4 linked regions of the Homo sapiens genome follow. The protein of the gene in region 1 interacts with the protein of each later gene in a pairwise test. Each region holds a gene or a part of one and is shown in the gene's direction. Other genes may lie near its edges.

Region 1 (8,687 bases):
AGGCCAGAAATGATATCTCTTAGGTAAGACCACACACACACCCCACATACAATCAATAAACCCCCAAAAGTAGAAATAAACAGGCCACAGTATAAGACATAATAAGACAAAAAATAGAAATGAACAACAAAAGCATATCCAATCATATTCACTTGTGAAATAAAAGCTGAAATTATACAAAATTTAGGAAAGATTAACAGGAACATTACCTCTATGACAATCTGATATAATGAACAATAAAATGATTCTCAGAGGGAATTTTATAGTCATAACGACATTCATTAGAAACCAAAAAAGACGGAGAAAAAGTGAATGAAGTAGTCAATTCAAAAAGCTAAAAAAAGACAATAGAATAGATCAGGTAAATTTTTTAAAATGTAAAATAGAAAATGAAATAAAAAATAGTAAAACCAAAAGTTGGTCTTTTTAGAAGAAAAAATATTCAAAATTATGAATGAGAAAGGGAGTATAGAATTATTTTCAAAATCATGAAAGTATGTTTTCATTATGAGTCAAGAATGCCTACTTAGGCAAGACACAAGATCAAGCACCATAAAAGGAAATATTGACATATTTGACTCTGCAAGAAAAAAAGAGTTAAAACGTTTGAGAAATAAAAGACCCCATAAACAAAAACAACAAATAAGTGAACATGCAGAAAATATTCGTTACATATATAAGGACTAAAAACTATGCTTGTAAAGAGCTACTTTAACACGAAAATCACATACACAACCAATTTTATTTATTTATTTTGAGACAGAGTCTCACTTTGTCGCCCAGGCTGGAGTGTAATGGCACAGTCGACTTACTGCAACCTCCGCCTCCTGGGTTCAAGCAATTCTCCTGCCTCAGCCTCCCGAGTAGCTGGGACTGCAGGTGCACACTACCATACCTGGCTGATTTTTGTATTTTTAGTAGAGACGGGGTTTCGCCATGTTGGCCAGGCTGGTCTCAAACTCCTGACCTCATGTGATCTGCCCACGTTGGCTTCCCAAAGTGCTGTCCCCAAATTTTTAAACACACAAAAGCTATACAAAGTTAATTCTTAGAGAAAGAACGGTCAATAAACATTTGGAAGAATGCTCAACCACAGTAGCAATCAGGAAAAGTTTAAAGCAATAAGATACCATTTCCGCCCCCATGAGATTCAGCTTAGAGACAGGGTCTTGCTCTGTCGCCCAAGCTGGAGTGCAGTGGCACAATCATAGCTCACTGCATCCTCAAGCTCCTGGACTCAAGCAATGCTTCCTCCTGCCTCAGCTACCCCCAAAACTCCCCAAAAGCTGGGATTACAGGCACATGCCACTGAGCCCAGCTAATTTTGTTTTTTTTTTTGGTTTTTTTTTTTGTTTTTTTTTTGTTTTTTGTTTTTTGTTTTTTTTTGACAGAGATGGGTGTTGGGAGGAGTCTCGTTTGTTGCCCAGGCTGGTCTCGAACTCCTGGCCTGAAGAGATCCTCTTGCTTTGGCCTCTCAAATTGTAAGGGGATCGCAGGCCTGAGCCATCACGCCCACCCTCCCCCAAATTAAAAAATGTGAACATATGCAGTGTTGAAAAGGTGAGGAAACAGGTAACTCTCCCATACAGTTGGTGGGGAATGTAGATTGATAGTATTTTTGGAGGACAAATTAGCAGTATGTATTACATTTTAAATTGTGTATACCCCTTTAAATCAGTTATTCCACTTCCAGATATTTACCCTACAGAAATACTTGAACATGTACACAGATATATATGTATGCATAAAGATGCTGATTGAAGCATTTTTGGGGATTAGTAAAAAATGGAAACTTTCAGAAATGTCAATCAGAGGCCGGGCGCGGTGGCTCACGCCTGTAATCCCAGCAGTTTGGGAGGCCGAGGTGGGCGGCTCACGAGGTCAAGAGATCGAGACCTTCCTGGCCAACATGGTGAAACGCCGTCTCCATTAAAAATATAAAAATTAGCTGGGCGTGGTGGCGGGCGCCTGTAGTCCCAGCTACTCAGGAGGCTGAGGCAGGAGAATCGCTTGAACCCGGGAGGCGGAGGCTGCAGTGAGCCGAGATCACGCCACTGCACTCCAGCCTGGGCGACAGAGCGAGACGCTGTCTCAAAAAAAAAAAAAAAAAAAAAAAAAGAAATGTCAATCAGAAAGAAAAGAAAGGATTACTAAGCAGTCATTAAAATGAATGAGTAAATCTGTAGTACATAAATCAAACAAGTTCCCAGATATATGGCAAAAAGTAAATTACTGAATGCAAATGATGTGGTACAGTGTCATTTCAGCGTGTATCACATACAGATACATGTATACATAAGCGTGGAGGCAAGTGTGACATAGAGCCTTTCATTATTTACCCCATATATTCCAGTGTTGTTTTAATTAAGACAAAATATAGGTATTCGTGGGATAATTTTTTTTTGTTTTTGAGACGAAGTTTCGCTCTTGCTGCCCAGGCTGGAGTGCAATGGCACGATCTCGGCTCACCACAACCTCCACCTCTTGGGTTCAAGCGATTCTCCTGCCTCAGCCTCCCAAGATGGGATTACAGGTGTGTGCCACCATGCCCAGCTAATTTTTGTATTTTTAGTAGAGACAGGGTTTTGCCATGCTGGCCAGGCTGGTCTTGAACTCCTGACCTCAGCTGATCCACCCACCTCGGCCTCCCAAAGTGCTAGGATTACCGGCATGAGCCACCGTGCCCGGCCTCGTGTAATAATATTTAATTAAGAAAAAGCCGGGTGCCATAGCTCATGTCTGTAATCCCAGCACTTTGGGAGGGTGAGACAGGAGGATCACTTTAGTCCAGGAGTTTGAGACCAGCCTGGGCAACAAAGTGACACACCATCCCCCACCTCCCGTCTCTACAAATAATTGTTTTTAAGAAGGATAAAGAAGAGTTTGAAAAGAGAGACATCAAACTGTTAGTTATATTTACCTTAAAAAGGAGAGAAAGAACTGAGATTTTTACTTTCCTTTCTATAACTGTTAAACAATTAAAAATGGAAATATTATATGCAATTTTGTGAAAATAAAAATTTTAAAATAGGCCAGGCGCAGTGGCTCACGCCTGTAATCCCAGCACTCTGGAAACCAGAGGCAGGCGTATCACCTGAGGTCAGGAGTTTGAGGCCAGCCTGGCCAACATAGTGAAACCCTTTCTCTACTAAAAATACAAAAATTAGCCGGGTGTGGTGGCAGGCGCCTGTAATCCCAGCTGCTACTCAGGAAGCTGAGGCAGGAGAATCACTTGAACCCGGGAGGCAGAGGTTGCAGTGAGCTGAGATTGCGCCACTGCACTCCAGCCTGAGCGACAAAGTGAGACTCTGTCTCAAAAAAAATAAAAAATAAAAAATAAATCATCCTTATGAAAATACTTTTCAAAGACAAATGAAATAGACCCCAACAATGTCTACTCTAGCAAATTTTCAAAGTCATAATAAAAATAAAATAGGATGACTCGGTGGTGTTTTAGCTGGTACTTTTCCAGTTTTCCTTTTACAACATAATCAACAATGACTTCAAAAGGATTTCCCCCTCCTTCATGGAATATTACTACCTTCAACACGGCCTTTCAGATCCGGAGTTCAAAGCATAGTTAGCATTATAATTTCAGCAGAGAATCCAGAATTGGCAGGATATCACCAGTAGGGTGACTTTTTTTCTTTTCCCTAGCAAACAGTAGAGCAGTATGTAGTTTCTCCCCCCGCCCAGACGGAGTTTCGCTCTTTCTCCCAGGCTGGAGTACAGTGGCACGATCTCGGCTCCCTGCAACCTCCGCCTTCCGTTTTCAAGCTATTCTCCTTCCTCAGGCTGCCGAGTAGCTGGGATTACAGGCGCCCCCCACCACGCCAGGCTAATTTTTGTATTTTTAGTAGAGGCGAGGTTTCACCAAGTTGACCAGGCTGGTCCCGAACTCCTGACCTCGTGATCCGCCCGCCTCAGCCCCCAAAGTGTTGGGATTACAGGCGTGAGCCTCCGCGCCCGGCACAGTATGTAGTTTCTAACTACAATTTCAAAAACAAAAACAAAAAAACCCCCCCCGCCCCCGCAAAAAAAAACCTCAAAAAAAAAAATGTGACACATAAATACACAACCTTAACTGTGTATTTTACTGGGATTGTAGAAAGGTATCAAATGGGCATGCAAGTAAGGTCCTTACGGAGTAAGAAAACGCCCAATGAACAGTACTTAATATGAATTCGACATCGTTAACACTGAGCGCTTGCTGTGTGCCAGCGCGCAGCATAATTCGAAGCAGCATGACTTTGCACAATGACATATTCTACAAGTCCAGTTTCCTAAGGAGTGCCCTTAGGTTACATATAACCTAAACGTGAAATGTAGAAGTACATAAAGGAGGCATAAAGTTAAAGGGGAAAAATTATAAATACTAGAAAAAATTGCATTGTATTATTTTGATGGCTGAAAAATGGGCTCGACCCTGCATGCACGCGTTCTCCATTGAGCTCGACAATATGCAGTATTTTGTTTCACGTTATGTCGCAGTCTTAGGGAGGAGTGAAACGTGGAACACGACTTCACATCAAAAATGCACGTTGCAGAGGCATTTTTCCTTCGGGGACGCCGGAAGACTTCGCCACACGCGCGCCCTCTCCGCGGACACCAACGTGCTGACGCATGTTCATTAGCGAGCTGCTCCCTCCATTTTGTCCCCAGTCTCCTTTAGGCGAACTGCGCGGTTCTATGTTAAAGCCACTTAGTAATGAAACTATAAAAGGGAGGAAGTGGGGTGGGCGTGGGAGCCCCGTTTGCGCAAGGCAGGCGCGGGGGACTAAATGGCTGCTGGTGCAGAGTGGGGCTGCCCCGGCACCAAGGGCTCGTCCCGTGGCCGGAAGGACAAAGGACACTTAGGGGACGAGGGCCGCCGAGCCAGCGCGGAGCGCCTTCCGGGTCGGTGGGCTGGGGCGGGCTGGGGGCTGGGGCCGGGCCGACCCCCGCGGTGGGGCCCACCCCGCAGGACAAAGCAGCGGCCCCGCCCCTCGGCGCGCGCCCGAGGCTCGTGCGTGTGAGCACGCGCGCCGGAGACGGTTAGAAATGGCGGTTGGGGCGGAGCAGGGGGCTGGCGCGGGAAGCGGGGCTGTCTGGCTCGGTTACGCCCCCACCTCGCCAGGAATCTAGGAGTCGGTTTGTTTTCCGAACCCATCTCCTTCCGCTCTCCCGCCCCTGCAGGCTGTGTGCCGAGCTTGGAAGAAAGTGTGACCCGTTCGACGGAACAAAGGACATGACAGCCCGGCCCCGTGCGGCCACTGCGGAGCGTTAGGAACATTCCCTAAAATGGCGGCCGGCGCGTCGGAACAGGGCGGGAGGCGGCGGCGCGTGGGGGCGGGACGGGGAGGGGCGCGGCCAGCCGGGCTTCTGCTTCCGCGACCCCGGCGGTGCAGGGCGGGTGGAGTCGCGGAGTAGTCCTCATGGCCGCCCCGCCGGAGCCCGGTGAGCCCGAGGAGAGGAAGGTAACCTGGGGGTCGGCGGGGCGCGCGCCGCGGGTGGGCGGTGGGTAAGGACGTTCTCCGCGGAGCTCCTAGGCCCGGAGCACGTGTCACTGGCTTCTCTGCCACCCATGGGCTTGAAACTATTTTAACTGTTCCTAGTCCTTATCCCAAGCCTCCAACATTTTAATCTAAGTGGCCGGGACAAAATTGACCAAAACTAGGGGGAGGAGGGGACCAGTAGTACTAATGACTTACTACAGGTCATTATGAAATAAGCTAACAATACTGAATCTTTGGCGAGAAAATTTTGCTGCTAAGGGCACTGCACTGTAATTTGTTAGTAAAGGCTAATAGTAGAGATTAAAGCTCCGTTGAGGACAGGTGCCTTGTCTTTAACACGTTGTATTCATCACATTTAACATAGGAGTAATTGCTGAGGGATGACTTGATTGTACTACGATGAGATGAAGGGTTAAGATTTCTTCCCCATCACCAGTAGCCTCCCTAGCTGGTGTCCCTGTCTCCATACTCTCCTGAATCCACCTTCCACTATTGTCCGCTGGCCCTTTCCAGCCTGTAAACTGGACAGTTTTCATTCCTCTGCCTAACATCCAGTCGTAGCAGCCCATCCTATCTCTTTAAGGATAAAACCCAAATTCTTGGTATAGTAAAGCTAAACCAAGCGCTCTCCCTGGAAGGGCTCCTGTGTTTCACCAAAGCTGACTTACGTACTTTCCCCATCTTCCCAGGCATCTTGTACGTCGTTACATTTATCATATTGGAAGGTAATAAATGATCTTGTTTTCCTCTTTTCCTGGGCTCCTTATTAAGAGCAGGGAACCTAATTTATATCCTCAGGGCAGAACAGGTATTCAGAAAAGAATAATGCAAGAGGAAAAAAGTTTAATATAAACTAGGGAGATCGTAACATTGGCTAATCACGAGCAAATATTTATAGAAGACCCACTGTGTGCTAAATGGCTCCTAATATATACTTAAGATATTCTCCCAGCTTGGAAATTCTGCTCACTTCTTGCTCTTGCTTGCTTCTCTGGTGGGCTTCCATCCAAATTTGGCCATGACATCAGATCATATGGTTAATATTAACAAATATTGTATAAATTGTTTTCATACTTAATATCCAACAGGTTGTCAGTTTACGTACTACTGGTGCCTTATCTGTTTTTACTGTCCCATACACTGCCCATCTGGAATAAGCTTAGTGTTTAAAAAAAAAAAAAGATCTTTGCATACACACAGTAAATCCTAGATTCAGTTTTGTGATAAACACTGGAATCCTGAATGGGACTTTTGGTAGGAGATAACTGCTGTTTTTAAAGGTCATAAAGGTGGTTTAATCCATTGGAAATTAAAAAAAAAAAACTTAAAAGAGGATCAACATTGACCTATTTAACTGGCCCATCAGTAAGTAGCAAAACAATACTGTAGTTGTTGAAATGAAGATAGTTATAAGCCTCAAACCGAGCACAGTCAGAGGTGGGAGGCCAAAAAAACAAAAATTGCTCATGAAACAGTAGTACCTATCAGAGCCCATCAAAAAGCTAATTAAATTAATAGAAGCTATGATGAATTAACAGCCCAAGGTGCTGTCAGAAAGGAAGCCTGCGGTTATTTTTTTTAAAAGAATTTGTCAGTGATCATTCCAGCACAACCCAGGGAGGATTATTTTATTATAAGAATTAGCAAACCTAAAGTAAAAATGGGAGTTACCAAGCTGGCATACCTTGATAGAACTAGCCCCTAAAAACTGTCCTCTGCCACATTCTTGTCCTTTAAGAAACTTTAAAATGTGAAATTTGGTACATACAGGTAAATTCACATTCAGGTAAATTCTTAATTCACCCATTCAAAAAATATTTAGAGTACCTACTGAGTATTAGACACTGAACGAGGTACTAGACTGATCAAGACAGGAAAAATCCCTTTAAGGAGCTGACATTCTACTGGAGGAATCAATAAGCAAGACTTCTACTGAGCCAGTCATGCAAAGATCCAGGAGAAAGGCAGCATGTGTTCGTTCGGTAATAACCATCTCGGCTTGTTAGAATGGCAAGGCCACTGTACCTGGACTAGTGGACAAGAGTAGGATATGAAAGAGCATGGGATCATGTAGGGCCTTTGGAGCAATGGTAAGGATTCTGAGCATAATCGGAGGCTACAGAGGACTTATTATAGTCATCTGATACACATTTTTATGAGTAGAATCAAGATCTGAAAGGTACTGTTGATAGATGGTAATTTGATAGGACAGGTTGAGCTTCCCAATTCAAAAAAAAAATTGTCTTTTGATGTATCAGTTTCAGATTTGGGATGCTCAACCTGTATTAGCAATGAAGTTGGTGGGCAGTGGTCTGGCTCAGGATGTATTTAGAATGTGGATCCTTCCAGACTTGCTAATATATTTGATGTGGATTTGATGAAGGAATCAAGGATGACTCTTAGTTTTTGGGTCTGAAAATTGGTTGAGTAGTGTGCCATTAAGAGGAAGGTTTGGAGGTGAAAATATATTTTGCAAATACGAGGTTCAAGGTGCTTTTTATACATAAAAGTGTCATTCATTAAGCAGATGAATGAGGCTGAAGCTTGGGAGAGATTAGGGTTTGATTTAGAAATCTGGAGTCATCATATAATGGCATTTAATTGAAAGCCTTGGGATACCTAGGAAGAGACTAGATTCCAAAGGAGTTAAGAGTGGCACTTCAGAATCAGGTCTGTAGAGGAGGGAACAGCAACAAAAATGTCAATGAAATAGAAAACCAGGAGACGTATTTGAAGCCAAGTAAAAGTAAAAAAGTTTCAAAAACAAATGATAATTTGTGCCACATATGCTGAGATGCGGATTTAGACTGCAGTGGATGTCTTTTAGAGGTCTTGACTGGTGTCAAGTGAAGTTCAGTGGATAGATGCCTCACTCAAGTGAGTTAAAGGGAGAATGGGAGGTTTTAAGTAGAAAAGCACACCTACACTCAGAAGTTTTGCCCCAAAAGGATGGTGGTTTAGGTGGCTGATGAGAGGAGAGGGGTGTATAGAGGATTTTTGGGTTTTTTTTTTGAGATGGAGTCTTCTTGCTCTGTTGCCCAGGCTGGAGTGCAGTGGTGCCATCTTGGCTCACTGCAACCTCCGCCTCCTGGGCTCAAGCGATTCTGCCTCAGCCTCCCGAGTAGCTGGGATTACAGGCATGTGCTACCATTCCTGGCTAATTTTTGTACTTTTAGTAGAGACAGGGTTTTG
Region 2 (7,774 bases), about 94 Mb from region 1:
AATGGGACCACGGGAGCAGCGCGTAGACATGACTGTCATTGAGCCCTATAAGAAAGTCCTGTCTCATGGAGGTAATGGCTAGCATAATGCAGGTGTTAAGAGCTATGGCTTCTTAATAAAATGCCTAAGCTGGAGACTCAGTCATTGGATCCAAAATCTATCCTGGAACTTCCAGAGACCCTCAGAGTCCCTCAACTTAAACAGATATACTATCTGTCAATACATATTTGTTGACCAAATGAATTTTCCCCTTACACTCTCCAGGTTACCACGGTGATGGCCTCAATGCTGTCATCCTTTTTGCTTCCTGTTATCTACCCAGAAGCAGCATCCCCAACTACACCTATGTCATGGAACACTTGTTTAGGTGAGGTGGAAGGCCTGAAGGGCTACAGGGCAGTGTTAGGGAGGGAAAAGTAAAAAAGAACTCCTTCAAAGATCAGTAGCTGATGGGAGAGTCTACAGTAATGTTCCTCTCACTCTCTGAAGCCCCTAACACATACCTTCCCTGCAATTTCATCCCCCCAGGTATATGGTGGGAACTCTGGAGCTGCTAGTAGCTGAAAATTACCTGCTTGTTCATTTGAGTGGAGGCACAAGCAGGGCCCAAGTTCCACCTCTAAGCTGGATACGTCAGTGTTACCGTACCCTGGATCGGCGGTGAGACCTGGGATGAGAGGGCTACAACTCTCTATCTCATCTTTTTTTCCCCATCTTTCTATTATTTCTTCTTCCATTTAGTCCTTTTCCTATTTTCTTTGTCCTTTTACGTTCCTTTCCCAGCTCTTTTGTCTTCTGTCTTCTCTTGGAGTCAAGGAAATCTAGCTTCAAATCCTGCTGTTACCACATTACTGTTTACTAGCTGTATGGCTTTGGACAAGTCACTTAACCTCTCTGGGCTTCAGCTTCAGTTTTTTTGTTTTTTTGTTTTTTTTGAGACAGGATCTGGCTGTGTCATCCAGACTGGAGTGCAGTGGCACGATCTCGGCTCACTGCCACCTCTGCCTGCCAGGCTCAAGCGATCCTCCCACCTCAGCCTCCCAAGTAGCTGGGACTACAGGCATGGGCCACCATGCCCAGCTAACTTTTGTATTTTTTGTAGAGATGGAGTTTCACCATTTTGCCCAGGCTGGTCTCAAACTCCTGAGCTCAAGTGATCTGCCTGCCTCCACCTCCCAAAATGCTGAGATTATAGGCATGAGCCACTGCACCCGGCCACTTCAGCTTCTTTATCTGTAAAATGGCAATAGTTATACTTTTGCCACTGGGTATTTGTGAAAATCGAGTAAATTAGTGTGGCATATTGCCTGGCACACAGAAAGCACTCTTCTCTCAGTCTTGCCATTTATTTCCCTTTCCACACCTCCATTATCTTCTTCTCTGCCTTCATCACTGACCTATGTGTCTTCTCTGTCACCAGGCTGCAGTGCAGTGGTAAGATCTTGGCTCGCTGCAGCCTCTCCCTCCCTGGCTCAAGCCATCCTCCCACCTCAGCCTTCCAAGTAGCTGGGAGTACAGGCATGCGCCACCACCATGCCTAGCTAATTTTTGTATTTTTGTTGTTGTTGTTAGAGACAGGGTTTTGCCATGTTTCTCAGGCCAGTCTTGAACTCCTGAGCTCAGGTGATCTGCCTGCTTTGGCCTCCCAAAGTGCTGGGATTACAGGTGTGAGCCACTGTGCCTGGCCCTGTGTCTTCTTTTCCTTCTCAGGTTTTTTTTTTTTCCCCTTTTGGTTCCCCCATCTCCATTTGCTCACATTTCTCTTCTTGCCCCCTTTCCTTTTTTCGTCCTTGCTGGTCTTCTTCCACCTAGAGTTTTATAAGTAATCTTGGTCATGGAGCGATGTAGAAGCATGCAAAAGGAACTTACGCGAGGGTAGAGCACAAGATGGAAATGGAGCAGAAAAAGACCAGGTGGTCGGGCGCGGTGGCTCACGTCTGTAATCCCAGCACTTTGGAAGGCCGAGGTGGGCGGATCACAAGGTCAGGAGTTCAAGACCAGCCTGGCCAACATGGTGACAAGTCATTATCTCTACTAAAAAAATACAAAAATTAGCTGGGCATGGTGGCATGTGCCTATAATCCCAGCTACTCGGGAGGCTGAGGCAGGAGAATCACTTGAACCCGGGAGGTGGAGGGTTGCAGTGAGCCGAGATCGAGCCACTGACTCCAGCCTGGCGACAGAGTGAGATTCCATCTCAAAAAAAAAAAAAAAAAAAAAAAATCCGGGCGCGATGGCTCACACCTGTAATCCCAGCACTTTGGGAGGCCGAGGCGGGCAGATCACGAGGTCAGGAGATCGAGACCATGGTGAAACCCCGTCTCTACTAAAAATACAAAAAATTAGCCGGGCACGGTGGCGGGCGCCTGTAGTCCCAGCTACTCAGGAGGCTGAGGCAGGAGAATGGCATGAACCCGGGAAGCAGAGCTTACAGGGAGCTGAGATAGTGCCACTACACTCCAGCCCAGGCGACAGAGTGAGACTCCGTCTCAAAAAAAAAAAAAAAAAAAAATCTTGAGAGTTTTTTTAAAAATGAGGATCATGGAGGGCTAAATAAGATGGGTGGAGCTGAGATTACAGCTGACGGAATGGGGATTAGACCCAAGTACCAGATAAATCTAGAAACTAGAGAAGTGAATGAAGGAAGTTACAGTACAGAAAACAGTTCCACGTGATCTTCACACATAAAGGTGGAAGAAGAAATAGGATGATCTCATGTTGTTTTTCAGGCTACGGAAAAACCTGCGAGCCCTGGTGGTTGTCCATGCTACATGGTATGTGAAAGCATTTCTGGCACTGCTTCGGCCCTTCATCAGGTACTAGTTCTAGGAACAAGGACTCCTTTCTCCTTCCCCCCATTTTCAAAATCAAGATTAAGATCTTTCTCCACCTTGATTCTTTCTAGCCTTAACCACTCTACTTCTACATTTTTCTTTGCAAGGATTTTTGGGAACCCTTCTCCCAATACAAAACACAGTTGATTTATTCTCTCTTTTCAGTTCCAAATTCACACGAAAAATCCGTTTTCTGGACAGCCTGGGGGAGCTGGCCCAACTCATATCCCTGGATCAAGTCCACATCCCTGAAGCTGTCAGACAGTGAGTTTCACACTTAAGAATAAAGCCTTGGGGTGGGATGTGTAAAGCCAATCTCTACTTTTTTAATGCCTTGGGGGACATACAAAAGAACGAAAAGCTAGAGGGCCCTGTTTTCGGGTGCTTTAATGTATATGGGGAAACTGCACACACCCAGAGAAGAAATGAAGGACACTACTGCATCCAACAAGAATAAATGAAAAAAAAAAAAAACCTATACATATAAGTGCAGAGGCAATAAGGAATAAAGGAATAATCACAGTGCAGAGGAGATTCAGACTGGCCCTAGAAATTAGGAAGAGATGTGTTGGCAGTGAACAGATGATATCCAGTGGGGGAGAGGGTGTTAGGGAGCAAAAGTGCTAAATGATGACTCAACCCAATCATCTAGCTCTTCCAATTCACCTGGCTTCTCTCCCCAAACCAGAAAATAAAACCCAAGTCCTACCCCCTGAACCACTTCTCTCCTCCCCCTCTCCCTCTCCTAGGCTGGACCGGGATCTCCATGGCTCAGGAGGGACATAGCACAGGACTGGATAAAAGGCCTTAGAACCAGTTAGTGATCTGCCTACACCTGAATCCCTGAAACATCTGAACTGTTTTGTAAATCATCTTATCCCCAACCTCAGTACCACCGGATCTTCACTTCTCAGTGGGATTTTGTCCTTTGCATGACCCTACTTTCAGCAGGGCTTTGAGGCTGGGAAACTGATCTGCTGGGTGACTTTCATTCCAGTTGCTGGGACGGAAGGCTGAATGTAGGGTCATTTTGTATGGGATATGCAGAGCTCTGGGTTTTTTTGTTTTTTGTTTTTTGAGACGGAGTCTCGCTCTGTCGCCAGGCTGGAGTGCAGTGGTGCGATCTCGGCTCACTGCAACCTCCGCCTCCCGGTTCAAGCCATTCTTCTGCCTCAGCCTCAGCGAGTAGCTGAGACTACCGGCGCACGCCACCACGCCCAGCTAATTGTTTTGTATTTTTAGTAGAGACGGGGTTTCACCATGTTGGCCAGGATGGTCTCGATCTCTTGACCTCGTGATCTGCCCGCCTCGGCCTCCCAAAGTGCCGAGATTACAGGTGTGAGCCACCGCGCTCGGCCAGAGCTCTGGGTTTTAATCCTACTTTAGCTGTAGAACCTTGGGCAAATAACTTCATCTTTTTGGGTCCTAATTTTCCTCCTGTCTAACTGGAGGGACTGTGATCCTTCCACCTTGGATGGAAGAGGCTTACCTGACAGCCAGCCTGCCTGCTGGGAGCCAGGAGAGTCAGCTCATTAAATCTTGAAGAACCGCTGTATGCCCTTTTTCCTTCTAAGTCATGTCTGCTGCCTGTGAGCCTGGGAAGGAGTGCTTTCAAAACCTGTATTTTTGCCCTCTTTAGTAAATTTAGAACTGTAGAGGCTAATAAACTGCGATGAGACATTTAAGCTCTGCTCCAAAGAAGTGAACGACTCTTTCACCACCCCTTGCATCCCAAACCTTCGGTTCTGGCAGAGTTCTTGCCGCAGAGGTTCCTTAGGAGCACCCCGCGCGGCCCGCGCGAGCGCGCCTGCGCGTCGAACCCCACCCCCTTCCCCGCGGGCCTCGGTTCAAACGACCCGGTGGGTCTACAGCGGAAGGGAGGGAGCGAAGGTAGGAGGCAGGGCTTGCCTCACTGGCCACCCTCCCAACCCCAAGAGCCCAGCCCCATGGTCCCCGCCGCCGGCGCGCTGCTGTGGGTCCTGCTGCTGAATCTGGGTCCCCGGGCGGCGGGGGCCCAAGGCCTGACCCAGACTCCGACCGAAATGCAGCGGGTCAGTTTACGCTTTGGGGGCCCCATGACCCGCAGCTACCGGAGCACCGCCCGGACTGGTCTTCCCCGGAAGACAAGGATAATCCTAGAGGACGAGAATGATGCCATGGCCGACGCCGACCGCCTGGCTGGACCAGCGGCTGCCGAGCTCTTGGCCGCCACGGTGTCCACCGGCTTTAGCCGGTCGTCCGCCATTAACGAGGAGGATGGGTCTTCAGAAGAGGGGGTTGTGATTAATGCCGGAAAGGATAGCACCAGCAGAGAGCTTCCCAGTGCGACTCCCAATACAGCGGGGAGTTCCAGCACGAGGTTTATAGCCAATAGTCAGGAGCCTGAAATCAGGCTGACTTCAAGCCTGCCGCGCTCCCCCGGGAGGTCTACTGAGGACCTGCCAGGCTCGCAGGCCACCCTGAGCCAGTGGTCCACACCTGGGTCTACCCCGAGCCGGTGGCCGTCACCCTCACCCACAGCCATGCCATCTCCTGAGGATCTGCGGCTGGTGCTGATGCCCTGGGGCCCGTGGCACTGCCACTGCAAGTCGGGCACCATGAGCCGGAGCCGGTCTGGGAAGCTGCACGGCCTTTCCGGGCGCCTTCGAGTTGGGGCGCTGAGCCAGCTCCGCACGGAGCACAAGCCTTGCACCTATCAACAATGTCCCTGCAACCGACTTCGGGAAGAGTGCCCCCTGGACACAAGTCTCTGTACTGACACCAACTGTGCCTCTCAGAGCACCACCAGTACCAGGACCACCACTACCCCCTTCCCCACCATCCACCTCAGAAGCAGTCCCAGCCTGCCACCCGCCAGCCCCTGCCCAGCCCTGGCTTTTTGGAAACGGGTCAGGATTGGCCTGGAGGATATTTGGAATAGCCTCTCTTCAGTGTTCACAGAGATGCAACCAGTAAGTGTTTGGTGATGAGCCAGGGTCTTTGTTGACGGATCTGAAAAGTCCTGGTATCTAAAACCCAGTTGCTAAGCCAGCCAGTGTTGCTTACATGAACTGTTACTGACTTACCTGGTTATTGATTCATAACATGCATTGGTTATTCACATTGTTAGCCATTGATTCCACCTATTATTTATTGAGCAACTACTGGTTGGTCATTAGGTAAAATGTCTTACTGCTCATTAGGTGATTATTGACCAAATAGTTAAGATTGGAAATATTTTTTTTTTTCAAGACAAGAGTTTCACTCTTATTGCCGAGGCTGGAGTGCAATGGCGTGATCCTGGCTCACTGCAACCTCTGCCTCCCAGGTTCAAACAATTCTCCTGCCTCAGCCTCTTGAGTAGCTGGGATTACAGGCACCCACCACCATGCCCGGCTAATTTTTTTTTTTTTTTTAGAAGAGACAGCATTTTACCATGTTGGCCAGGCTGGTCTAGAACTCCTGACCTCAAGTGATCCACCCGCCTCGGCCTCCCAAAGTGCTGGGATTATAGGCATGAGCCACCATGCCTGGTCTTGGAAATTCTCTGTTTTTTTCACAGACAAGATCTCGCTATGTTGCCCAGGCTGGTCTTAAACTCCTGGGCTCAAGCAATTCTCCTGCCTCAGCCTTCCAAAGTGCTGGGATTACAGGCATGAGCTACTGTGCCCCTGACCATAAGACTTTTTTTTCGAGACAGGGTCTCTCATCACTCAGGCTGGAGTGTGGTGGCGCAGTCACAACTCACTGCACCCTCCATCTTCTGGGCTCAAGCAATCCTCCCACCTTAGCCTGCTGAATAGCTGGGACTACAGACGTGCACCACCATGCCTGGCTAACAAGATCTCGCTATGTTGCCCAGGCTGGTCTCCAACTCCTGAGCTCAAGGATCTGCCCACCTTGGCCTTCCAGAATTCTGGGATTACAGACATGAGCCACTGTGCCCGGCCCATAAAGTCTTTTTGATGCACAGATAATTAACAGATATGAAGGATCTTAATCAATTAATAGTTTTGACCTAATACAGCTTAACAGCAACAAGTGCCAAAATTTGAGGTCTTACTATGTGCACTTTACCTGAATCGATCCTCACATCCTATGAGGTATTATTATCCCTGCTTTTCAGATGAAGAAACTGAGGTTTACAAAGCTAGTAAGTGGCAGAGCCACGAGATTTAAACCAGGTTTGACACCAGTGCCCACTCTCTTCACCACTACCATTTGGGAGTACTGTCCTTCCAGGACAAGGAAGGATAGTCCTCTGCTTTTCCCAGAATTAGCAAAGGTTCTGATTGACTTGATAAGGTAGTCTCAATTGATACGGATGATAGGACTTTGAGGAGGGAAAGGTAATAAAGCTTACACTTGGTCATTTTGCTTGTTTCTGTTTTTCTCCTTGTGTGTCCAATACCATTATTGCATACAAAAATAAGTAAGGGGTGGGCAGTAGGGTTGAGGGAATATGGGTTTGTGGGAGGGGGAGATGAAGCAAGGAAGGGAAAAGAATATAGATGTGGTTGTAATTTCCCTTTTTCTCTATTTTTTTTTCTTACGCAGATAGACAGAAACCAGAGGTAATGGCCACTTCATCCACATGAGGAGATGTCAGTATCTCAACCTCTCTTGCCCTTTCAATCCTAGCACCCACTAGATATTTTTAGTACAGAAAAACAAAACTGGAAAACACATTGTTTGGTCTTGTGTTTCTTTACAGAGGTACCTGAGGGAGGAGAGACATAAATCCCTTCATCCCTAAGACTGAACTATGTAACTAGCAGCCTCTGGCTTGTTTTCTACTCCCTGTCCCTCAGGATAAAATGTTGATATTGCTCATTTTCCTCATTTCCAACATTGTTTTAAAACAAGTACTTCTTTTACAGGCTTGAAAAATCTCAAATAAACGCTAAGAAAAGGGAGTAGGAAGAACAAGGAGTTGAGCCCTTGAAAGATGACAGTGGTCT
Region 3 (7,932 bases), on another chromosome or scaffold:
ACCCAGCCAAGATTTGCATGTTTTTAAAAGAGCTTCCTTGCCTCTACTTATTATGTGCAATCTTTTCTCTAGCTTCTTGAACATATGGAATATAATTGTAATAACTTTTAATGCTTTTGTCTACTAATTTTTTCATCAGTATCATTTCTGGGTTTCTTTTAGTTTATTTTTTTTTGATCGTGGTATTTTTCTGCCTTGCAAGCCTGGTAGTTTTTAATTAGATGGCAGATATTATGAATTTTACTTCATTGGGTGCTAGATATTTTTTATTCTTATAAATGTGCTTGATTCTTGTTCTTGGATGCAGTTACTTAGAAATCACTTGATCTTTTTGGGTCTTGCTTTGTTATTAGGCTTTATTTAAAATGTGTGTTTTGTTTTAAAAAGAGAAAAAGCCAGGTGTTGTAAACAGTGCAACAATTTTTGTAACAGCAAAAATCTGTAACCATTCTAAATATGTCAGTTACTCTGATTATACTTTAGTAAGTCTGAACAGTGGAATGCTCTTAAAATGGACCCTTATCATTTATTTACTGGTCCTACCACCCTTCCAATTTCAGAGTCGCTTCAGAAATATACTGCCTGACATCTAACTTTTGTTTAAAAAAGATTAAAAGTCTTATGAGGTTCTCCATGCATTGTTGTATTTGTAATTCTTTCTCTTACTGAGCTGAAATGTAATAAGGGGAGAACAGTAGACAATGAGGGTAGTGAGGTAATGGGAGACAAGATGTTAAGTGTAAGGCTTTAACTTTCTCTCTTAGTGAGGAGGGAAGCTACTGGAAGGTTATGAGCAGAAGTGTACCTTGATCTTACATTTTAGAGCAGGGGTCAGCAAAGTTTTTCTGTAAAGAGCCCATATGGTAAATATTGTAGGCTTTATGGATCACACAATCTCTGTTGCAACTTGATTTACAAAGAGACATCTGGCAGGATTTGGCTCCCAGGCTGCGGTTTGTCGACCCCTGTTTTAGGACTGTATGAGCTGCTATATTGAGAATAGATTCTAGGGGGTGAAAGTGGAGGTAAGAAGTCCAGATGAGGAGCTGTAACAGTAACCTACATCAGAGATCATGGTATAGACCCAGCAGATAGAAAGTGAATACACAGAGCAAAGAGGTTCTAGGACTGAGCCTCAGAACAACCTAACATTCAGAAGTCAGAAAGAGGAGGACTCAGCAAAATTGTCTGATAAGGAATGGCCAGTGATATATGAGGAAAACCAAGAGAGAATGGTATTCCAGAGCAAAAAGATGTCAAGAAGGAGAGAGTACAATAGCAGAACAACAAATAACCTGATTTAAAAAATGGGGAAAAGACGTGAACAGACATTTCCCCAAAGAAGGCATAGAAATGGCCACCAGAGGTATATGAAAAGATGCTTAGCATCATCAATTATCAGGGAAATGCAAATTAAAAGCACAATGAGATATCAACTGGCACTTGTTAGAATGGCTGTTATCAAAAAGACAAGAGATAATTGTTGATGAGGGTGTGGAGAAAAAGGAACCCTAGTACACTGTTGGCGGGAATGTAGATTGTTACAACCATTATGGAAAACAGTATGGAGGTTCCTAAAGAAATTAAAATTAGAACTACCATGCGACCCAGCAATTCCTCTTCTGAGTATATACCCCAAGGAAATGAAATCACCACCTCATAAAGATATCTGCCCTCTCATGTTCAGTGCAGCATTAATTTATAGTAGCCAAGATATGGAAACATCCTAAGTGTCCATCAATGGATGAATGGATAGAGAAAATGTGTCTACAATGGGATACTATTTAGCCTTAAAAAAGGAGATTGTGCTGTTTGCCATAGCATAGATTTTGGAGGACATTATGCTAAGTGAAGTAAGCCAGACATAGAAAGACAAAATACTGCATGATCTCATATGTGTGGGGAAAAAGTCATATATACAGTTGTATAATATAATAAATATAAAGAAATAAAACTGGTTACCAGGGATAGGATGGGAGGAAATGGGAAGATGTGGGTCAAAGGATACAAAGTAGCAAATATGTAAGAGGAGCAAGTCGAGAGATCCAATGTACAGCATGAGGACTGCAGCTAATGCAATTGTATTGCCTTAGGGATTTCTGTGAATTAAGTGGATTTTAGCTGCTCTTATCACAAAAAAGTAACTATGTGAGATGATAGATATATTAATCTGATTCATTATAGTAACCACTTTACTTGTCTATATGTATCCCATAACATCATGTTGTAAACCTCAAATATACACAATAAAATACCTTTTTTAAAAAAAGGAGAGAGTAATCAACTGTGTCAAAAGCTGCTGTAGGTCAGATGAGATTAAAGCTGAGAAGTGAACACTAGCATTTGGTAAGGTCAAGATCAGTGGTAACCTTGATAGGAATGGTTTCATTGAAGTCATGGGACAAAAGCCTGAATGGTGTAGGTGTGAGAGAATATGGACACAGGACAAAAGAGACGGCCTCAAAGTAGTTTTGCTGTAAAGGAGAGCACAGAAAAGGGAAGGGGGCTGGAGAATTGGAGTCTAGGGAGGATTTTTTCAACAATGGTTAATGATTACAGCTGATAGGTGTTCAGCAATGAAACAACAAAATCTCTGCCTTCATGAAGCTTACATTTTAGTATCGGGTGGGGGCAGGAAGATAGACAGTAATAAAGAAACACATAATTATATTAAACTGGCTACAAGATGTTGCCACTCAGATATCATATGGACATTTTGCATTCAACATATTCAAAATGACATTATCTCCTCCCCTCCCTTCCCCCACCTTTTCCTCTATTCCTCTTCCTTGTTTTTATATTGTAAAAAATGCCACATTCAGGACAGAATCTTGTGCCTTATCCCTTGCAACCATCCTGTCCTCAAACTCAGGAGTGTTTTTTTTTTTCTTCACAAACAGTTCCTCAGGTCTGCTCCCTCCTTGCCATCTCTACCTCGGCCCATTGGCATTCACTTCTCTTCTGGATCGCTACCTCACCGTCTTAACTAGAGTCTCTGCCTTCGTCCTCCCCCTTTAATCTCTTCTCCACAATGTAGCCAGAGTCATCTTTTAAAAATATAACCTGAGAGTTTTAAGGGACTTACTCAAGACCACAAGATTCATAGAGCCAAGATTTGATTTCCTTATGTCATGCTCCTCTTGGGGCTGGCTTTATGTAGGGGGTAGGAAGGAGCTAGGTCATCTTAAGCTAAGTAAGATATGAACATTGCCAGAAATGCATGTTTGTATGTAACTGACAGCTCATCAATTTGTCTGATGTTGGTTTGTTTTTGTAGGTGCACAGGTTTCATATTCCAGAAGGTTGGAAAGTTGGCTGCAACAGCTGTGGGAGGTGGATTTTTTCTCCTTCAGGTCTGTATGTGAAATGTTCTCAGATGTTTGGAAATTCCACCTGCCCATTAAGGAATGTGGTGTGGGGAGTTGTAATACAGTCCTGGCTATGTCACACTAGACTAGCCTTAGCACTTGTTTTCATGTACTATTTTAAATGCTAGTGACCGTTTGAGTCAAATTTTATTCATTATACTAGTAAATGTTATTTGCCAGTCCCATTTTATTTCCTCATGTGGCGACAGAAGTGCAAATTCCTTATCATAGCTCCCTTAAAAGAGTTTTTAAGACCAGCTGAATTATTAAGCGGATGTGATTTCAAAAATACAAGTGTGCTGTGATGATTTAGTGTCATATGCTAATATTATAGCTAGCTTTCACAGAGGGGATGTTGAGCATGTGATGAGAAATGGGAGCTAAGTGACAGTACAGTCAGATGTCGTCTGCTGTCTCCTTGACCCATAGTTTCAGAACCAGTGGTTGCCAGTTCTCTGAGACTGCTTAGGAGAGACTAACAAGCAAGACTTGAAAAAGGGAGCAGTTTCTCCAAAAACAAAAGAAAACTGACATTTGATTGTATTAGGCATACATTTCTTAGCTCTGTGGCATTGGTATTCAAATTTGGCTCCACATTGGAATCACCTAGGAGTTTTTAAAAGAGCCAACGTGTGCCACTCCTGACCCACAGTCTGATTTCATTGGAAAACTTAAAACTCCTGAGGTGATTCTGCTGTGCTGTGGGAGCCATAACTTGCTGAATCATGCCAGAGTCTCTGAATTCACAGCCGTTTGTCTCTTCCCACAGTTGGCAACCCTCACTTTTGCAAGGTAAGTTCTGCATTAGCACCATGATTGGAGTGAGTTTTGCAGATAGGTCAGGTGAAAATCAAATGTATCGAAGAGGGAAGCTGGTAACTGGCTGTAGCTGGGTTGAGTGTGGTATTGCTGCATGACAAATTCCCCCAAACCTAATGGCTTCAAATAATGATCACTTTATTCTCTCTCATGGTTACAGGAGTTTGGGGAGGGTTAAGGTAGGTGCTTGTGGATCAGAGTCTCATGTGGTTACAGGCCAGATGATCAGAGGGTTAGGGTAGGTCTGGACTTGTGGGGCCTCTTTGTGTCTCTGTCTCTGTTTGTCTTCCCTCCTCCTCTCCTTATTTCCCCCCTGTCCATAGTCTCAGTGCTCTTCCATGTGGTCCCTGTGCCAGTATAGGCTTCCTCACACTACCATGACCTCAGGACTCCCAAGCACAGTTCTGCAGAAACATGGTGCAAGTTGCATCTCCTTTGTTGCCCAAGCCTCACTTTTGTTGGCTGCTTCCCTGTGGGCTTGTTACGTGCTGGCTCTGTTGCTAGACAGGTCAGACTCCCTGCAAGGTGGGGCCCCTCCTCACACCTCTCTCTCCTTCCCCTTGACCCTTCAGGTGGAAGTGCAGTAACATCTCTATCCCTGTGGTTTCCCTTATATGCTGCCCCAAACTTCATAAACATTTTAATATTGCTTTGAAATGTCTTAATTTGAGTGTGTCCTCTGTTTCGTTTTGGGGCCCTGACAGAAATAATTGGTATTGAAAATGTCTCCAGAAAGGCACCTCAAAATGAGATTTTGGGGTTGGATAATTCCAATATTCAAGGGGTACAGGGACACTGCTTTGCTGCAGAGGTGAGACATGGAGAATCTGTGGCAGGCACTCATGTTATCTGTCACCAGGGGAGTGAGAGCAGGAGGCAAGCATAATGTTGGGAGATCAGTTATATCACAAGTTATAGTTTGACATAGGGATCCAGTTTCCTTTTTTCCATACTGATAATTGAGCAGAATTTAGTGAATAATTCTTCCCTTTCCCAACATTTGCAGCATTGTCTCTTTCATATATCAGAACCCATGTATGTGTGGCTGTGACTCTGGTTTCTGTGTTCTGTTCCACTGGTCAACTTTCGATCTTTATGACAGTACTAAAGCTTAATATTTGGTAATGCAAATTCCTCCACCTTATTCTTCAGGAGTGTTGCAGCTACTTTTGTGTTTCTGCTCATTCATCTAAATTTTAGATCAGACTTGTCAGTTATTTTCAAAAATCCTGTTGAAATTTTTATCGGAATTGCATTGGAACCATGTAGATATCTCTTATGATATTGAGTATTCTATCTGTGAACACGGGCTTTCTCTCCAATTATTTAGGTCTTCTTTAATGCCTTTGAATAGACTTTTTATTATTTTTCCGTATAGATCTTGTACATCTGTGATTCAGTTTTATTCCTGGATACCTTATAACTTTAGTTGCTCTTGTGGATGATACGATTTTTAAAACTACACATTCTGATTCATGCTAGTGTGTTGAAATACAGTTGATATTTTATGTTGCTCTTTCAGCCAGCCACCTTGTTAAAAAAGTCTTGTCTGGGATTCTTTTGGGTTTTGTCTATAAAATCTTTTTATGCCATCTGTGAACAGTGAAATTTTTCCTTCACGTCTTTATGAATGTAGTTGCTTTTTCTTACCAAGCTGTAGATCATTTCCAGCACTTTTTGCAGCTTTCAGAGCCCAGCAGCAACGCTTGCCAGTTTTCAGTTTATTCGGCTCCCTCTACTTGTTGTGCTGCAATGGAAGTAGGATGTTGAGCTTTGTCAGTAGAGGGCGCTGGAGGGACCTTGCAGCGGGAGAGGCTGCTTTTCCCAGTTCTGGTGTTGCTTTGCCCCTGCAGTGCAGTCCCCCAGTAATGCCAAGGAGAGCAGGAAGTCACCTCGCAATCCTGGCCTGGGCCACCCAGGGGACTTCACCACCACCATTACTACTTTTGCCCCCTTGTGAAAAATCAGTTTGTTGTAGTTGTCCACGTCCGTTTCTGTACTTTTTATTCTGTTCTGTTGGTCTGTGTGTCTATCTCTTCTTCAGTATGACACACTGTCTTGACTACTGTAGCATTATAGTAAATCTTAAATCAGGTAGTGTGATTTCCCCAACTCTGTTCTTTTTCAGATTCATTTTGGTGATTCCAGTTCCTTTGCCTTTCCATATAAATCTTAGAACCGGCTTATTTATGTATCTATAAGAAATCCTACTGGGATTTGTGATTTGGGATTGCAGTAAATCTATGGATAATTTGGAGAGAACTGGGCATCATTTCTGTGTTGAGTATTCCATTCCATGTACATGATGTGTCTCTCCATTTATTTAGGTTGTCTTTGAGTTCTTTCTTCAGCATTTTGTAGTTCTCAGTATACAGATCCTGTATGTTTTATTTGATTTGTACCTAATATTTAATTATTTTTTGCACCCATTGTTGTAAATCATTTAAACATTTTTCATTTCCAGTTCAAATTGCTAGCATATAGAAATTCAGTTGGTTTTGTGTGAATTTGTGTCCTGTGACCCTGCTAAACTCACTTTTTTAGTCTAGGAGTTTTTGTTTTTTGTTGAAGTCTATGAAATTTTCTATGTAGACAAAGATGTCTATGATTGGAGACAGTTTGACCTCTTCCTTGTGAATCAGGATGCCTCCTAATTCTTTTTCTTGCCTTGTTGTGCTGACTCTGAATTCACTTCTGGTACGATATTTAATAGGAGTGGAGACGGCGGACAGCTTTGCCTTGTTCCCTGCATTCGTTCTTTCACCATTCTGTACAGTGTTAGCTGCAGGGTTTTTTATGTAGATGTTCTTTATCAAGTTGAGGAAGTTCCCCTCTATTGCTCTTTCTCTGAGAGTTTTATCATGAATTTGCGTTGAATTTTGTCAGATGTTTCTTGAGTCCTGCCTTGAGGTTAGGCCAGGCGATACTGCAGGAAAAGCAGGAAACACGCCACCAGTTTGGTGGTGCTTTGAATTCTGGTCTTCTCCAATCTGCACGTCGCTGTTTTTATGTAAGAGCCTTCAAATAGCTAGTCCATGTATTCTCTCAGTTTAATAGCAGGATTTTGTGGGATAAACAGGGTGGAGTAAATGAACCAGAGCCTTCTTTTAGATACAAATGTTGATACTCAACTATGTGGTTGCTGTAAGTAATTTGTTCTTTTTAGTACTAAGTAATATTCTATTGTGTAAATATGATACAATTTGTTTATCCATTCATGTGTTGATAGACTTTTGTGTATTTCCAGTTATAGACTCATAAATAAAGGTACTATGGCTTGATTACTTGTGAAGTTGAACTTTTTCCTTTTTGTGGACACTTTCCTCTGAATTGCCCTTACCCATTTTTAAAGTGAACTTTCTTACTGATCTCTATAAGAAGTTCACTTTTTTGAGTATCAATGTTTTGTTTATGATACACATCACAAGTATTTTCTCTAGTCTGTTTGGGTGACTGGTGGTGCCATTAGCTAAAATAGGGCCTAGAGGAAGAGCAACAATGCAGGAGGAGACTCTAGCAAGGTGAAGACTTTTAGTTTCAGATATTTTGAGATTGCCAAAAATTTGGTAGAGAGAAGTGATATTGATAGGGCATTGATTGATTGGCTACAGTCATTCTCTTCATTCCTAGGATGATATTAATCCATCATCAAAATCTACATGCTTGAATCAGATTTACACTGAGTTTTAGTGTTTGTGCCTGCTGTTTTTATCAAGGGAAATAGGTATATGCTGTAGGTGTCTTT
Region 4 (7,932 bases), on another chromosome or scaffold:
TATTCTTTTTATTTTTTTATTTATTTTTATTTTTTGAGATGGAGTCTTGCTCCGTTGCCCAGGCTGGAGTGCAGTAGCGCAGTCTCGGCTCACTGCAAGCTCCGCCTCCCGGGTTCACACCATTCTCCTGCCTCAGCCTCCCGAGTAGCTGGGACTACAGGTGCCCACCACCACCACAACCGGCTAATTTTTTTGTATTTTTAGTAGAGACGAGGTTTCACCGAATTAGCCAGGATGGTCTCGATCTCCTGACCTTGTGATCTGCCCGCCTTGGCCTCCCAAAGTGCTGGGATTACAGGCTTGTGCCACCGCGCCCAGCCTATTTTTTTTTTTATTATTTATTTTATTTTGTTTATTTATTTTTTGAGACAGAGTCTTGCTCTTGTTGCCCAGGCTGGAGTGCAATGGCGCAATCTCAGCTCACTGCAACCTCTGCCCCCCGAGTTCAAGAGATTCTCCTGCCTCAGCTTCCCAAGTAGCTGGGATTACAGGTGCCCGCCACTATGCCCGGCTAATTTTTGTATTTTTAGTAGAGACGAGGTTTCACCATGTTGGCCAGGCTGGTCTCGAACTCCTGATCTCCGGTGATCTGCCCACCTTGGCCTCCCAAAGTGCTGGGATTACAGGTGTGAGCCACTGCACCCAGCTAATTTTTATTTTTTTGAGAGGGAGTCTCTCTCTGTCACCCAGGCTGGAGTGCAGTGGCTCAATCTTGGCTCACTGCAACCTCCGCCTCCCAGGTTCAAGCAATTCTTCTGTCTCAGCCTTCCAGGTAGCTGGGATTACAGGTTTGAGCCACTGCGCCCAGCTAATTTTTATTTTTTTGAGAGGGAGTCTCTCTCTGTCACCCAGGCTGGAGTGCAGTGGCTCAATCTTGGCTCACTGCAACCTCCGCCTCCCAGGTTCAAGCAATTCTTCTGTCTCAGCCTTCCAGGTAGCTGGGATTACAGGTGCATGCCACCATGCTGGGCTAATTTTTGTATTTTTAGTAGAGACGGGGTTTTGCCATGTTGGCGAGGCTGGTCTCGAACTCCTGACCTCAGGTGATCCACCTGCCTGGGCCTCCCAAAGTACTGGGATTACAGGCGTGAGCCACCACCCCCGGCCTTTTTTTTTTTTTGTAATACTAACCATTCTAATGGACGTAAGGTGGTGTCTCATTTTAGTTTTGATTTGCATTTCCCTAATAGTGATGTTGAGTATCTTTTCAGATGCTTATGGCCATCTGTTTATCTTTGGAGACATGTCTAGTCAAATCTTTTGCCCCCTTTTAAAATCCAGTTGTTTTTTGTTGTTGAGTTCCTTTTGTTGTTGTTATTATTATTATTATTATTATTTTTTGAGACAGAGTTTTGCTCTTTTGCCGAGGCTGGAGTGCAGTGGCGCTATCTCGGCTCACTGCAACCTCTGCCTCCTGGGTTCAAGCGATTCTCCTGCCTTAGCCTCCCGAGTAGCTGGGATTACATGCATGCACCACCACACCTAGCTAATTTTTGTATTTTTTTTAGTAGAAAGAGGGTTTCACCATGTTGGCCTGGCTGGTCTCGAACTCCTGACCTAAGGTGATCCACCTGCCTCAGCCTCCCAAAGTGCGGAGATTACAGCTGTGAGCCACCACACCTGGCCGACAATTTTTTTTTTTTTTTTTAACTTTTAAGTTCAGGGATACATGTGCGGGTTTGTTATATAGGTAAACTTGTGTCATGGGTGTTTGTTGTACAGATTATTTCGTCACCCAGTTATTAAGTCTAGTATTCATTAGTTATTTTTCCTGATTGTCTCCCTCCCACCCCCTATCCTCCACCCTCCAAAATAGAAAAATTTGTTTTTAGAGGCCGGGTCTTGCTCTGTGACTCAGGACCTGTGGCCACATCCTGTGCTGCCTCATACAACCTTATGGCCTCTCTAACCTCAACCCAGTTAGCTTTCCTAAACCCATTTCCCTATGATTGTTAACACTTGTTGTTAGCCAGGTTCAGAAGGATAACATAATTATTATCCCAGCAGAGTACACCCACCCTGTAATCGGTAAGAGAGATGTTTGGCCTGGTCACTGGGTTTGTGGTGAGAGTCTGTGAAAAGCTGTAAGGAACGCGCTGGTCTTCAGTAGGGTCAAATGCTGCTCCTTCACCATCGTCAGAGGCTACTTCATCACAGCCTCTCTGATTTGAGGATTCAAGTGGGAAAGACTCATGACAAGCAGCAGAAAGTCGAATTGGGAAAACAGTGCCCTCAGGGATGGGGCCGCGCTCAGGTACTTAGATTATAACCTCCGTTGGGATGTTTCTGAAGCTTTCGTCTTAGCAGAAGTTAGGGAGGCAGCACCCCGATCTCAGCACTCAGTCTAGGCCGCACTGGTCCCCGCACTGGTCTCCCCCCTCCCCCCGCGTGAGGCCTTAGGAGGTCTGAAGTATCAGAAGTCCTTGGGCCAGTTAAGCCTAGCAAGGTCCTGGGAGGCGATCTCAGCTGTCCGCTGCGGTGGGGGTGGGATGCCTGGTAAGGACACCAAGTCCGTGGTGTTGGCGTGGTTGGAATTTTCCTGGGATCGCTCCCTTCTCTTCAAGCTGGTCACGGGGACGCATGGTTGAGAGCGCCTAGTTCATTCAGTAGGTGGTCCAGGACTTTCTTCAGCTATAGAGGGGAACAAAGACGCCTTTGGTGAGCACCGGCTCTGCAGCTCTGCGGGTGCAGGGGAGGTGTACTGCGTAGGTGCCCCAGGACTGGCGGGGGCTGAGGGTCCATGCGAACGGCACTACTACGCAGGCGTCGCAGGACTGGCCCGGGCTCAAGGTCCGTGCAAACTGCATGCACTGCGCAGGTGCTCCAGGACTCGCGCGGGGTCAAAGTCCATGCAAGCCGCACGCACTGCACAGGTGCCCCAGGACTGGCACGGGCTCAGAGTCCACGCATACCGCACACACTGCGCAGGCGCTCCAGGACTGGCGCGGGCTCAGAGTCTATGCAAACCGCATACACTGTGCAGGCGCCCTAGGACTGGCGCTGGCTCAGGGTCCCTGCGAGCTGCACGCACTGCGCAGGCGCCCCAGAGCTGGTGTGGGCTGAGTGGCCACACGAGCCACATGCACTGCGCAGGCGCCAGGAGGCCCTTCCTCTCAATCCGAGCTTTGCAGATGAAGGACTCTGCGTGTGTTGCCTTCTGGGCTTACGGGCCGAGTGCCCTTTGAGATTCAACTTTTTCTAAATTATCCTTCACTTTCTGCTGTAAAGAGTGGCCACCTCCTTTTTCCTCTAGGGGACTGAAGCGAGAGGAGGATATTGCAGGGTTTGCCTCTGTGGTCATCTTCTTAGAGAGCACCCCCTCCGCCCCCACACCCTTTTCCTCAGAGCCGTTGCTTAGTGAGTCCCTGCCATGGACCAGGCTTGGGAATGGTCCCCAAGTATTAGTTTAGGAGGACGACTCTCTGCTTCACAGGACCTACCCCAGAATCCTGTGACTCAGAAGCGCGCTTGTGAAGTGCGCATGTGCGGGCAGGGCCTCCAGTGGGGCTCTCGTGGGGGCAGCAGCCAAGGACTGGGGCTGGTGGCCTGGAGAGCTGCCCGCTTCTCCGCCCTTGCCGGTAGGGTTCCTGGCCGAGAGTGGCATCTGGGGCTGTTCAGGGTCTGGAGCTTCCTGAGTTGGAAGACCCTGTCCTCTGTGTTCAGGGACTCAGGGTGACCTGAGTTGGTGGTTCCTGGGTTTGCCTGCTCTACTGCTGGCAGGGACTAGCACGGGGTGTGCACGTTGTCATGCCATCAATTAATTCAGAGATTCACTTTTGTTCTAAAAATTAATATTTGCATTATTACATTTAGATTCATATTAAATCTTACACTGCATGATTCTAGAACATTTTAACACTTATACGTGGGTCTTGGATTAACATTGATACATATTTGCAAATTTATACTTTAAAACTTTTTTTTTTTTAGAGACAGGGTCTCACTCTGTTGCCAAGGCTGTAGTGTGGTGGTGCCATCATAACTCACAGCAGCCTCAACCTTTCGGGCTCAAGTGATCCCTCCCTCCCCGCCTCAGCCTCCTGAGTAGCTGGGGCCACACGGACCACAGGCGTGCACCACCACACCTGACTAATTTTTAATTTTTTGGTAGAGATTGGGTCTTGCTATGTTGCCCCGCCTGGTCTCGAACTCCTGGGCTCAAACGATCTTCCCGCGTCAGTCTCCGAAAGTGCTGGGATTACTGCACTGCGCCTGGCTCAGACAGTTTTTATTGTGCTTATACATGTAATAGATGTAATTATTTTTTCAAGCACCAGTTGTTTTTGTTAACCTTACAAAGCTGCCTTCAGTTTTCCTGAAGTTCACCCTTCTGCCTTCACTCACCTCCCATTCCTGAGTTGTTTTGTGTATTCCCTATAATGCTAAATAATGTCTTGGAATCTCTTTTTCTTTTTAAAATATGGTTTTAAAAGTCAGATTTATTGAAGTGTAATTTGTATAAGGCGAAATTATCAAAAAGTCCTTAGCAGTGTCTGTAGATTTTCCTTGCTTTTGAAAGATAATTTTGTGATTCATCTAAGAGAATTTGGCCCATTCCTATTTCCTTCTCCAGAGTGGATCAGGCTGGAGTATAGCTCCTTCGGTTATAGTGCTGGGTAGTGGCCAGGGCAGAGGCACCACAAAGAGAGCTGGATTTGAACCCCCTACTCCCTGCGCAAAGGCTGCCAGAAGCTGCGCTGCAGTGAACACGCTGCGCATGAGCCCCTAGACCCCTCCACCCCCCCTACTCCCCACACTCCCCCCCCCCACTTTTGCCTCATCACGCAGGCGCTGGTAGGCGGCATCACTGGGCGGGTCAGAAACCACGCGCATGCGCAGACACCCTCAGGCGACTGGCGGGTCGCGGCTTCCAAGCTCTAAATGGAGAGTTGTCCCTACTGTGCGGCAGGCGGAGGAGACCTGTAAGCTGGAAGGGGGAGGGGGGGGGATCTGATTTATTGTGTGCCAGGCACACTTTAGATACACTATAACATTTCGTCTTTATTAATCTATTTTTAAAATTTCGAAACAAACACAAATGTGCAGAAAAGTTATATACAGTCAATACCGATAACTGATTTTGTTTCCTGAACCATTTGGAAGTTGTCAACCCAAACCCCCTCATTCCGAGATACTTTGGTATTCAAAAGAATCTTGGGGGCCGGGCACAGTGGCTCACGCCTTTAATCCCAGCACTTTGGGAGGCCGAGGCTGGCGGATCGCTTGAGCTCAGGAGTTCACTGGCAACATAGTGAAACCGTGTGTCTACTAAAACTAAAAAAAAATTAGTCGAGTGTGGTGGTGCAGGCCTGTAGTCCCAGATGCTCAGGAGGCTCAGGTGGGAGTATCGCTTGAGCCCAGGAAGTCGAGGTTGCAGTGAGCCGAGATCTAATGCAGGCGTCAAGTACGTTACCACGATCTGATCCTCAGACCCCATGCAGGTTCCCCACGTTTCGCAGTAATGTCCTTAACAGGGAAAGGACCCAGTTCGGAATCATGCATTGCATTTCCCGGCCTCTAGCCTCCTGTCTGGAGGAGTTTCCCAGTCTTCCCTTGACTTTCATGGCTGTCATTTGTGGGTGTCAGAGGCCAGTGATTTCGCAGAAGGGACGCCTACTGGCATGTCTGATACTTGGTAGGGATTTCTGAGAGGCAGTGCTGTGTTCTCATTGTGTCTCATCCGCTGGTGTGGGACTGGGATTTGGGGATGTTCGCTGATCCCTTGGGGTAGGTGCCAGAGGCGCCACTGAGGGATCTGGTCTTGGGGCGCCCGCGCAGTCCTTGGACTAGGCCTTCCCGGCAGATCTGCGGGCGCCACCTGGCGGTCACTGCCGACTCCTCCGTTGCGCTCCAGTCACCTCTCCCATCCCGGTGCCGTGGCCGGGCCGTTCCCTGGAGAGTGGACGGCTGGGGCTGGTGCAGGGAACAGGGGCCTGCGGGGGCTGCGCAGGCGGGCCTCCAGGTCATGCGGGGCCCCTCTGCTCACAGGGACCAGCCAGGCCAGCCTGGGGAGCGTGCTTCTTTGTTTATGTCTGTATTTCTCTGCCTATCTGTGGAAACCACAGATCTCCAATTGAAGCCAACACCACAAGATTCATTCTGCTTCTCTCCGAGACGCCTGCCTGCCTGCCTTCCTTCCTTCCTTCCTCCCTCCCTTCCTCCCTTCTTCCCTTCCTTCCTTCACCAGGTTATGAAAGTGGCTAATTTTTCATATTTTTTGTAGAGACAGGGTTTCACCATGTTGCCAAGGCTGGTCTTGAACTCCTGGGCTCAAGCGATTCACCTGCCTTGGCCTCCCAAAGTGCTGGGATTATTGGCATGAGACACCGAACCTGGCCTTTTTTCTTTTGTCCCCCTTTTTTTTTTGAGACAAGGTCTCACCCTGTCGCCCAGGCTGGAGTCCCATGGCATGATCTCAGCTCACTGTAGCCTTGAACTCCTGTATACAAGAGATCCTCCCACCCCGGCCTCCAGAGTGTTAGGGTTGCAGGCCGAGCCACCATGCCAGGCTGAGGCATCTTTCTAAGTGTCTTTGTTGAAAGTGAGAAGACTGGCTTCCGTTACTCTCAATATGTTTATTTCTGTGATCACCCTTTTGTAATTAATCTCTGGTGTCCACCGCCCACTGTTACCCAAGTGAATGCATGCCTCTCCCCACCTGGGCTCCGACCCTGGCAGGGTTCCTTCTTGTCTTGTATGTCTGTCTCCCTCACCCTACAGACCCTGACTCCTGTGTCAGGCTGCCCTTTCTTGGGGACCCCTGTATCACCATGCCTGGCCCTGATGCCTCTTGCCAGGGTGCCATTCTGTGGGAAGGCCCTCTGCACTGAGCTTGGGCACTGACATTCTGCCCTGGGCCCCTGCCTCACCACTGTTACCCTGCACCTGCACCTTGCTCTGCCCCGTCTAATCTAGGACTGAATTCTTCTGGGAGGGGAGAGGTTACATGTTCCCTGTCACTGGAATAACAGCTCTGGTGATGGAATTGGTTTTCATTTCACAATTGCAATTTTATTTATAGTGAAACAGACAAACATTTGTATTGGAGCAAATTCATGGGCATATCTGTAAAAGGAAAAATATAGTTTGAATAGCAATTTGAATATGAGTTTTTTTTTTTTTTTTTTTTGTGGTCGTTATAGGGAGCCGAAAAAGGCAGCAGAGGCTGGCTGTGTAGGTAGAGGGCAGCTTGCCCAGTTGGCAGAGGTGGGAGTAGGATGTTGGAGGAAGGTGTACCGGTTCTGTCTGGCCAAACCCATGCTGGAGTCACCTCAAAAGCAGTGGCAGGGGAGTTCCCTCAAGGGGCTGCTCCAGACTGCCTGGAGATGGGGCTGGCTTGGATTCCAAAGAAAGAAGCACTAAACGCCAGGGTGATAAGTCCACAGCATTCATGACGGGAACTTACAAGAGCTGCGGCAGTCCCGGGACAGCCAGTGAGAGAAAGGGACATTTACCTAGGGCTGTCTGCCACCCGGGGGTTGGGGTATGGAGTGTATGTGGGAGTTTAAGGACTTTGTCATGGTGGGGCTAGTTTGTAGGTGTTTCTCAGCAGGATGAATCTCCCAGTGTTCTCCAGCAACAGCCTTTGCTCTTTATCAGTCCTGGGAACGTTCACGGCCGCAGTTTGCATTCAGTCCTGCAGGGACGCACACAACTGGCTGGGTCACAGAGTGGTCAGGGCATAGACAGAAAGTAGCGGGGGACTGGGGAACCCTCCTGTGACCCGTGTTGGAAGGTGCTGATCCCCGTTGTCCGCCCTGCCAGATGTCCAGGGTGCTGCAGAAGGACGCGGAGCAGGAGTCACAGATGAGAGCGGAGATCCAGGACATGAAGCAGGAGCTCTCCACAGTCAACATGATGGACGAGTTTGCCAGATATGCCAGGCTGGAAAGAAAGATCAACAAGATGACGGATAAGCTCAAAACCCATGGT

The links.
Region 2: the proteins of COX20 (region 1) and C1orf56 interact in binary tests that used the Homo sapiens proteins (3 or more experiments, as listed by UniProt).
Region 3: the proteins of COX20 (region 1) and FUNDC2 interact in binary tests that used the Homo sapiens proteins (3 or more experiments, as listed by UniProt).
Region 4: the proteins of COX20 (region 1) and GET1 interact in binary tests that used the Homo sapiens proteins (3 or more experiments, as listed by UniProt).

What each region holds. Positions count from the first base shown.
Region 1 is NC_000001.11:244,830,301-244,838,987, forward strand, and holds the start of COX20 (cytochrome c oxidase assembly protein COX20, mitochondrial), read left to right. Parts: upstream 1-5,357; 5' UTR 5,358-5,414; coding exon 5,415-5,456; intron 5,457-6,184; coding exon of another isoform or gene 6,185-6,220; intron 6,221-8,687. UniProt on the Homo sapiens protein: Essential for the assembly of the mitochondrial respiratory chain complex IV (CIV), also known as cytochrome c oxidase.
Region 2 is NC_000001.11:151,043,068-151,050,841, forward strand, and holds the start of C1orf56 (protein MENT precursor), read left to right. Parts: upstream 1-4,683; 5' UTR 4,684-4,780; coding exon 4,781-5,785; intron 5,786-7,370; coding exon 7,371-7,391; 3' UTR 7,392-7,774. Other genes in the region: BNIPL (bcl-2/adenovirus E1B 19 kDa-interacting protein 2-like protein), read left to right, coding at 1-71, 265-367, 529-660, 2,730-2,816, 3,000-3,098, 3,584-3,620. UniProt on the Homo sapiens protein: Involved in control of cellular proliferation. Onconcogenic modifier contributing to the tumor suppressor function of DNMT3B.
Region 3 is NC_000023.11:155,043,232-155,051,163, forward strand, and holds part of FUNDC2 (FUN14 domain-containing protein 2), read left to right. Parts: intron 1-3,277; coding exon 3,278-3,353; intron 3,354-7,932. UniProt on the Homo sapiens protein: Binds directly and specifically 1,2-Diacyl-sn-glycero-3-phospho-(1'-myo-inositol-3',4',5'-bisphosphate) (PIP3) leading to the recruitment of PIP3 to mitochondria and may play a role in the regulation of the platelet activation via AKT/GSK3B/cGMP signaling pathways.
Region 4 is NC_000021.9:39,382,934-39,390,865, forward strand, and holds part of GET1 (guided entry of tail-anchored proteins factor 1), read left to right. Parts: intron 1-4,847; exon of another isoform or gene 4,848-4,922; intron 4,923-7,764; coding exon 7,765-7,930; exon of another isoform or gene 7,931-7,932. Other genes in the region: GET1-SH3BGR (WRB-SH3BGR readthrough), read left to right, coding at 7,765-7,930. UniProt on the Homo sapiens protein: Required for the post-translational delivery of tail-anchored (TA) proteins to the endoplasmic reticulum (ER).